Linked DNA regions of Homo sapiens: region 2 is linked to region 1. Evidence: fine-mapped expression QTL. A gene starts in region 1. The other region holds a variant in brackets. All regions are shown on one strand. Distances are between the middles of the regions.

Region 1 (4,395 bases):
GTACATCTAATGCATACTACAAAATAATAAGAAAAGTTAGTAATGTGGCTGGATACAAGATACATACGCAAAAACCAAAACTTTAATTACCAATAGTCAGTTAATTGTAGAAATGGAAAAATTACCCTGTAAAAAAATAGTTTCAAAAATCATAAAATGCCAAGGAATAAATGTTAATAACAAACATAAATGCTTATATAGTGAAAATTTTTATTTATGTATATAAAACAAGACCTGAATAAATAGTGAGACACACATATTCCTGAACAGGAAGATATAATAGCAAAAAGATGCCAATCTTCTCAATTCAGGAAAACCCTCTAACCCTACATGTAGGACTCTAGTCTACTAAGATAAAAGCAAGAATATAGAAATATATTCACACAAGGAAATTATTAAAGAATGTTTACACAGCCTTATTCATAAAAGCAAAAATGGAAAATGCCTAAACATATATCAATATTAATTGGTTTAAAAAACTACATAGCATCCAAAGTAAAGACTTTTATGCAATTATGAAAAGAACTTGTCAAATCTGTCTGTATTGGTGTATAAAGGAATCTACAATTTATTGGCAAATAAAAAATGCAAGGTAAAGAAGAATATGTCCAGCACAGCATAAAAGTTTATTTTAACAAAATAGGTATGAGAATTTACATTAGATATTGCATATAAATGAAACTTTTTTTATACTGAAAAGAATATACACAAAACTGATAAGAGCATTTCCTCTAGGGGTCAGAAAACTTAGGAAAAAGGGGAGTTTCATTTCTTGCTGTGGTTTTTGGTACTTTTCTAAACACGGTACTCAAAAACGTGGGCTAAATATGATCTATAATTTTTAAATTAAATATATACACCTAAAATACTTTTTTTAATGAAAAGAATGTATGCAAAACTGCTAAGAGCATTTGCTCTAGGGGGTCACATAGAATTAGCAAAAAAGGAAAGTTCAATTTCTTACTGTGGTTTTTGGTACTTTTCTAAACATGGTACTCAAAAATGTAAGCTGAATACGATCTACAATTTTTAAATTATATACACACACCTTCAAGAAGGGCAGTTTTATAAAATTTGATAACTGATGAGTACATAAATTGGCACAAAATAATCTGTTAAACTGGAAAGAAATTTGAAATGCAACAAATGAAAATGTCAAATCACAATTCAGTAAGGAATCTTTTTTTAATTTCCAAAGCCAGATTATTCCTAATGTGCTAAAGGAGAGGTGACTTACCATAGGCAATGGCTTTCCCTGATGGCAGTTGATACCACCAATGAAGATCATATTGGGCATCACGGGTTTGGGATAGTCCAAAACAAAGTCTGTTCGCAACAACCAAATTGATGTGTGGCTGTAGAGATCATATGCTGTGACAGGTGTTTGGAGAATTTCAGAGGCTATTTCTAGGGCATTTTTGGAAAAATACTGGCAAAATAAATGTTCCTCCAAGTGCATGATGTGGTTCCGTACTCTCTCCTTGAAAGTCATGGCATCTGAGAACCCTAAGAGAATTCTGGGGACATAGGAAAGAGGAGCAGGGCACTGTGCACCTTCTTCAAGATAGTGGCAAGCTATTCCCCTGGCGAAGACCACAGAGGGGAGGGAGAAATATTTGGCAACAATTAAGCCACAGGCATCAAAAGGATCAAGAAACACCGCATCAAAAGAACTCTCCTTTAAGTATTCTACTAATTTTCGGTCATTAAACAAACTCCTGCAATGCGAAAAAAATAAGTTAAAAAAACCATTGGATGAACTCAGAAATAGAGAAAACAAACTTCGTACTTGTGCTTTCCATTGAGCATCGGCGAAATCCATGAATTCCCGGTCCAGATCCTCCAGAGTGTATGAGGTTGAGTAAGTCTTCACTGTGCAATTCAGTGATTTTCCCAGTTGCCAACTCACCTCTGGCATGACTACAACCACCTCATGCCCCCTGAGGATAAGTTTCTCCACCACCGACTGCATGGTGAACCAGTGACTCCCATCCATGGGCACTACCAGCAGCTTCCCTGCCTCAGCAAAGCCACAGGTCAGCAGCAGAGAAACACATAGGGGAATGGGGCTGGTCCACCCTGTGCGAGCCATGAGAGAACTGCAGCCCGAGCCAGCAGCTGGGATTCTAAGCTGCTATGATACAGTAGGCGGAAGAACTACAGGCACAAAACCTGACCCCAATAGAGGGCGTGTATTTATCCTGTCATAAAAAAAAAAAAAATCACACTCACTGCCAATGATTTACTCATAAGAACAGGAATACATGAGTATCATTTTTTGAGATACCTACTTGTATGTATCTCATAAGAGTACTATAAGAGTAGCTTATAGTCTCTGCCTTGGACAGATCATGCCCAGTGCTGTAACGTGAGTTTAGAAACAAAATTACTAAGCAATGCTTTAGGACCTTGAAGATTCAGAAAGATAAAGTGAAAGTAAATTTGAATAAAGCTAATATTTTTGGAATTCATCCCAAAGCAAAATTTAGATTTTAACTTTAGCCAACCAAATACTCTCTGTCCAGAAAGAAATTGGTATCCTATGTTCCAAGGAAAGACAGCAAGGCCCCTTAGCACCGACTTCCCAGCTGGCAAGAAATTGGGGCTCACCTGCATCTCTGCAATGCATAATCATTGCTGGTTGTCTTCTGCCATATCCAAACCCTGAGAGGCCTCTGAAATGCCGAAATGACATTGACAACCCTGCCTCCATGGACCATACCAGGGACTTGATGGAAAGTGACCATCACCTATTTTAATGACTTTCCTCAGATACATCACATGCAGTGGGGAGTCTCTAGCCCAGTCTTTGTGCGAGCACTCTGCCGGGCTGCCTTTCTGTGGCCGCTCTACTTCCACATTCTAAACATGCCATCAATCCAGTGCCCTCCTTCAGGAAAATATGTACTTGTCTCCCTCAGTCTACTGGGCACTCCCTGAGGTCAGTGGTGATGTCATCTTTGTGTTTTTACCCTCCTTTCACAGTAGCCATGCTATGCCTTTGATATAATTTGTATGTTTGTCCCCTCCATATATCATGGTCAAATATAATCCCCAGAGTTGAAGGTGAAGCATGGTGGGAGATGTTTGGATCATGGGCATGGTTCCCTCATGAATGGCTTGGCACTGTCCTCCCAATAGTGAGTGATTTCTCAGGAGATCTGGTTGTTTAAACGTATGTACCAAAAACACTCTTTAGGATATTATCCAGGAGAACTTCTCCAGGCTAGCAAGACAGGCCAACATTCAAATTCAGGAAAAACAGAGAACACCACAAAGACACTCCTCGAGAAAAGCAACCCCAAGACACAGAATCATCAGATTCATTAAGGTTAAAATGAAGGAAAAAATGTTAAGGGCAACCAGAGAGAAAGGTCTGGTTACCCACAAAGGTAACCCATCAGACTAAAAGCAGATATCTCTGCAGAAACCCCACAAGCCAGAAGACAGTGGGGGCCAATATTCAACATTCTTAAAGAAAAGAATTTTCAACCCAGAATTTCATATCCAGCCAAACTAAGCTTCATAAGTGAAGGAGAAATAAAATCCTTTACAGACCAGCAAATGCTGAGAGATTTTGTCACCACCAGGCCTGCCTTAAACAAGAGCTCCTGAAGGAAGCACTAAATATGGAAAGGAAAAATGAGTACCAGCCACTGCAAAAACATACCCAGTTGTAAGGACAATTGACACTATAAAGAAACTGCATCAACTAGTGGGCAATATAACCAGCTAGCATCATAATGACAGGATCAAATTCACACATAACAATATTAACCCTAAATGTAAATGGGCTAAATGCCCCAATTAAAAGACACAGACTGGCAAATTGGATAAACAGTCAAGACCCATCGGTGTGCTGCACTCAGGAGACCCATCTCACGTGCAAGACACACATAGGCTCAAAATAAAGGGAGGGAGGAATATTTACCAAGCAAATGGAAAGAAAAAAAAAGCAGGGGTTGCAATCCTAGTCTCTGATAAAATAGACTTTAAATGAACAAAGATCAAAAAAGACAAAGAAGGGCATTACATAATGGTAAAGAGATCAATGCAACAAGAAGTGCTACCCATCCTAAGTACATATGCACCCAATACAGGAGCACCCAGATTCATAAAGCAAGTTCTTACAGACCTACAAAGAGACTTAGACTCCCATACAATAACAGTGGAAGACTTTAACACCCCACTGTCAATATTAGATAGATCAATGAGACAGAAAAGTAGCAAGGATATTGAGGACCTGAACTCAGCTCTGGATCAAGCAGACCTACTAGACATCTACAGAATTCTCCACCCCAAATCAACAGAATATACATTCTTCTCATCACCACACTGCACTTATTCTAAAATTGACCACATAATTGGAAGTAAAACAGTCTCTCAGACCACAGA
Region 2 (4,395 bases), 140 kb before region 1:
CATTCATGCTCATGAATTACAACAGAGAACCACTACTAAGCAATCCAATTAATATCTGCTCTGAAACCAAAGCAGAACCCATTGCTAATTCCCTCATCTGCCAAATATTTATGGAACGTGTGAGCCCTACTGGATGGCAGTCACTATGCTAGGAACTAGGCCCAGAAAGTCAAGTTAGAAATGGTCCTTGCCTGAAAGGAGGGGTCAGGTAGACAGAGACAAACTCATGACCAGGCAATTACAGGGGATGGTGCTCTAGGGGCTGAGAAATCACACAGCAGGGCAGCAATATGATGGTCTTGCTTTGGGGGCTGCTAAAGAGTGACACGTCCATGGAAAGTGTTTCTGGAACCCTTTTGAAGCTACTTTCTTTTTAAGCTGAAGACATAAGTTAGTAGGCCACCATCAGACACACTACCAGCTCCTTTCATCTCCTTTCATCAAATCAGAATGACAGGCTTATTACTAAAGGAGCAACATAAACATGTCCAGTGCCCTGTAGATCATCTACAGGACCCTCCCGGGAAGCAAAGCCACCTTCCTTGAATCCCTTGAATTCCTTGAATTTCCAAAATCCCAGAAAAACAGCATTTTGTTCTGTTCTGCCTTGTATCTTTTAGCAGTTTGCATATCTGTCCTTGCTATTAGACTATAGCTATATCATATATACATATATATATATATATATATATATATTCCTTACAGGCAAGATTTTGGCTTTGGAATCATGCTATCACTCAGGTGCCAGTCCATGGTTTTGGAGACAGTAAGCGCTCTGGACATGTTTCTGTATAGAAGTGACTTTTCTTCTCTTTTCGTTCTAGACCCTGCATCCAAGCCAGCAAGTAAGTGCTGAATCTGGATGTTTCTACCACTGTCTCTCAGACCCAGCTGTCATGGTCCCATTTCAGGGCCCCAGCCCCCCTGTCCCCCAACCCCCAGCTGTCCCTTCTGAATCATTGCATCGGCTGCCACCTGAATAACCCCACCTCACCACCACTTCTGGAACCTTGGTCAGCAGCTTCCTGGGCACAGAAAATTCAGAGTCCTCTGCCTTGCTCTCAAAACTCTGGGATAGACCCCAGCCCACCTGTCCAAGCTCATTCCTCCTCTCTAGCCCTTCTGCTTGCCCCCTCCCTCTGCCTCTTACCCTCTAGCCATTCTGGATCCCTTGCTGTTCCCCAAACTTCCTTTGATGTTCTCAAATTGCTTTGTTCAAACTGAACTCTACCCTTGGCCAGCTTACTATGACTGTTCATTGCGTGCTTACCAAGTGCCAAGTCCGGGTTTCAGGTTATGTAACTAGAGGTTATATAAACTCAGAAGTTTGTTCTGGTGAGATAACACATCCTCATTACACCTAATACCCTTTATGAACCGTTAGAATGTTCTTTGGTTAATCATTTTCCCCTTGGAATTGAGTGACCTTTACTAGTGTATTGCCCCACAATTTATCAAAGCAAAGAATCCAGTGTCAAAAAGAGAATAAGGAGGAGGTGAAGAGAACTCAGATCTCAAAAAAAGTCCCCCCAAAATTCATCGTCATTATATAGCAGTTCTAGCGGAAATAATCACTGCATCCCATGTTTATCCCCAGTGCTATACACACGGCCTGCAAGTCTTAATGGTTTCGATACAGTAAATAGTGCTGTATTTCCTTTTGTCTGAGAGGATCTCCCTGGTTGTTTTAGCAGTCAAGAAAAGTGAATAACATGCACATTTGACCCTCCATATACTTGGGCTTCACATCTGCAGATTCAGCCAACAGCAGATTGAAAATATTTGGGGGGAACAACAATGAAAAAAAAACAGTACAAATAATACAAATAAAAAACCAATACTGTAAAACAACTATTTACATAGCATTTACATTTATTAGGTAAAAGTAATCAAGAGATGACTAGAGGTTTAAAGGAGGATATGGGTAGGTTATATACAAATACTGTGTCATTTTATAAAAGGAGCTTGAGCATCTAGATTTTGGTATGGGGAAGGA[G/C]GGTTGTCCTAAACTAATCCCTTCAGAATACCAGGGACTACTCTGCTAGACTAGCGATTCTCAAAGTATGAGCCAGGAAATCCTAGGGATCCCCAGTAATTTTTCAGGAGAATTTTACAAAGTCAAAACTATTTCCGTAATAATGTTACTTGATTTTCTCATTGTCATTCTCCCACAAGTGTACAGTGGAGTTTTCCAGAAGCTACATGGGGGATGTGTAATATCACAATAGATAGAATGCAGAAGCTGACATGAGAATCCACCTCTCTATAGAGCCAAGTACTAAAGAGAGAGATGCAAAAACTGTAAAACGATGCCACTCTTCTCACTACATTTTGTCTCAAAAAAAGTTACATAAAAAGGTTTGTTAGTGTGTCATGGGTTTATTCTTCTTAAATTGCCCAATGAATATGTCTTTTTAATTCTGTTTTAATCTCTAATGCAGTACATATGATAGGCATAATCCAGATGAACAAAAGCAAATGGGCACCGGGGCTGGAACGTTGGAGAACCGCAGTCCTAAACAACAGGATGTCTTCAGCCCCGGTCAGACTAAACTCACTCCCACCACCCTCTTCCCTCCTGTGGCCGAGGAAAAAGACTGATATAAAGCCTACTTTAAGAAAAACAGTTCTTCAGGCAGCCAAAGTCAAGGCCCTCTCTTTTCCCCAACCTCTTTTTCCCATCCTTTTTGGAGACCATGGCTGGTTGGAGGCCGGAGTGGGCGGGGCCTGGTCTTGGAGCATCACAGGGCCTCACAGAGCCTCACAGAGAGCAGGGCCAGTCCCAGGAGCACTGCATCTTGGGATGCGAGGCGCTCACAGGCCTCGGCCAATGAGATGTGGCTGCGTCATAAGGGGCGGCCCTCCAGGCGGCCCAGGTCGCCAAGCCTCTGACCTGTGCGCGGGTGCTGGCAGCCTTGCCGCTCGCTGTGCCAGTGCCCCGCAGGCTCTTTGGCAGTCCAGCATAGTGGACTACTACGAGGTGCTGGGAGTACCCCGGTAGGCCTCGTCCGAGGGTATCAAGAAGGCGTACCGCAAGCTGGCGCTCAAGTGGCACCCCGACAAAAACCCCGAGGACAGGGAGGAAGCGGTGAGAAGATTCAAGCAGGTGGCTGAGGCCTACGAGGTGTTGTCGGACGCGTAGAAACGCGATATCTATGACCGCTATGGCGAGGCGAGGGCGGAGGGCGGCTGCGCAGGCGGCAGGCCCTTCAAGGACCCCTTCGAGTAGGTCTTCAGCTTCCGTGACCCCGCCGAGGTCTTCAGGGAGTTCTTTGGCGGCCGGGACCCATTCTCCTTTGACCTCTTGGGAAACCCGCTGGAGAATATTTTGGGGGGTCAGAGGAACTCCCTGGGAAGCAGAAGCAGAGGGTCTGCACCCCTTTTCTCTGCCTTCAGTGAATTTCCAGCTTTTGAGGGTGGTTTTTCTTCTTTTGATACAGGATTTCGTTCCTTTGGCTCCCTGGGAAGTGGGGGCCTTTCTTCCTTCTGCATGTCCTACGGTAGTGATGGGACAGGCAGCTTCAAGTCCATGTCGACTTCCACTGAAATAGTTGATGGTAAAAAAATCACCACCAAGAGAATCATTGAGAATGGCCAAGAAAGGGTGGAAGTGGAGGAAGATGGAGAGTTGAGTTAAAGTCCTTCATAATAAACGGCATAGAGCAGTTGCTCCCCATTGACACCAAGTAATTCCAGTCCACATTTGCCTTTAAGCACATCTGGAGGAATAGCGGACTTTTTTTAGGATTGAAAGTGAACTTTACTTTCAGAACAGCTGTACCCAAGAATTTATAAACACTTTATGCCAATGCCTGTCTTTATTGTTGGGACTGCACGGATAGGACCTCTGTTTGTCTTTCGATCATTGTAAATATCTGTATGCAATTTGCTATTTATTAAACTTAAGCCTGAGGCAGACAATGATTATTTCCTAGTGCTAGGACAGAATGTTCATCTCAGCACTTTGAGCCTTACCTTTTTCCGTTGGGAAAGTGTGAGCCAGGTGGTTTGCTCTAAATCATTTGACTTCAATGTTTTACTGTGTGGTGGTGAAATCTATGAATATATTAATACTCTGGCTTAATTTAATGATGGCTTTTAATTGCACATAAATGCTCGTGATGTAGGAAGAGTTGACCATTATTTAGATAAAAGGTTAAACCCAGGCTTTATAAAAGCAGGTAAACCTGGCAAAGTGGATGCATTCGTTTCCTATCATGGCTGTAACAAATTACCCAAACTTGGTGGCTTAAAACAACACACGTTATTCTCTTAATATTTTGGAGGTCATACATTTGAATCCCATATCACTGAGCTGAAATCGGTGTAAGAAGCATGTTCCTTCTGAAGGCTGAGGACAGACCTTGGGGTTATGTGGTTGGTCAATGATATACT

Alleles and levels. Positions count from the first base shown, and alleles are read on the strand shown. Sizes are in standard deviations (SD) of each study's normalised expression.
In carriers of allele G in region 2, the expression in transverse colon of the gene that starts at base 2,167 in region 1 tends to be lower than with C alone (small effect, 0.36 SD a copy in GTEx).

The links. PIP is the estimated chance that this variant, and not a neighbour inherited with it, causes the effect.
Region 2: its variant is the best candidate, but not a certain one, in a credible set for the expression of UGT1A8 in transverse colon (GTEx, PIP 0.53).

The regions. Positions count from the first base shown.
Region 1 is chr2:233,615,405-233,619,799 of GRCh38, reverse strand. It overlaps UGT1A8 (UDP glucuronosyltransferase family 1 member A8), which reads right to left and starts at 2,167. Exons shown (of 5, transcript NM_019076.5): 1 at 1,238-2,167. The coding sequence starts at 2,092. It also overlaps UGT1A.
Region 2 is chr2:233,753,837-233,758,231 of GRCh38, reverse strand. All of the region lies in intron 1 of UGT1A8 (UDP glucuronosyltransferase family 1 member A8), which reads right to left. All of the region lies in intron 1 of UGT1A10 (UDP glucuronosyltransferase family 1 member A10), which reads right to left. The region is part of intron 1 of UGT1A9 (UDP glucuronosyltransferase family 1 member A9); the gene reads right to left. All of the region lies in intron 1 of UGT1A7 (UDP glucuronosyltransferase family 1 member A7), which reads right to left. It also overlaps UGT1A6, UGT1A5, UGT1A4, UGT1A3, UGT1A and the pseudogene LOC100286922. Among named protein-coding and RNA genes, the nearest start is that of UGT1A1, 4.2 kb to the left of the region's middle. The variant G/C (reference allele first, on the strand shown) is at 1,997.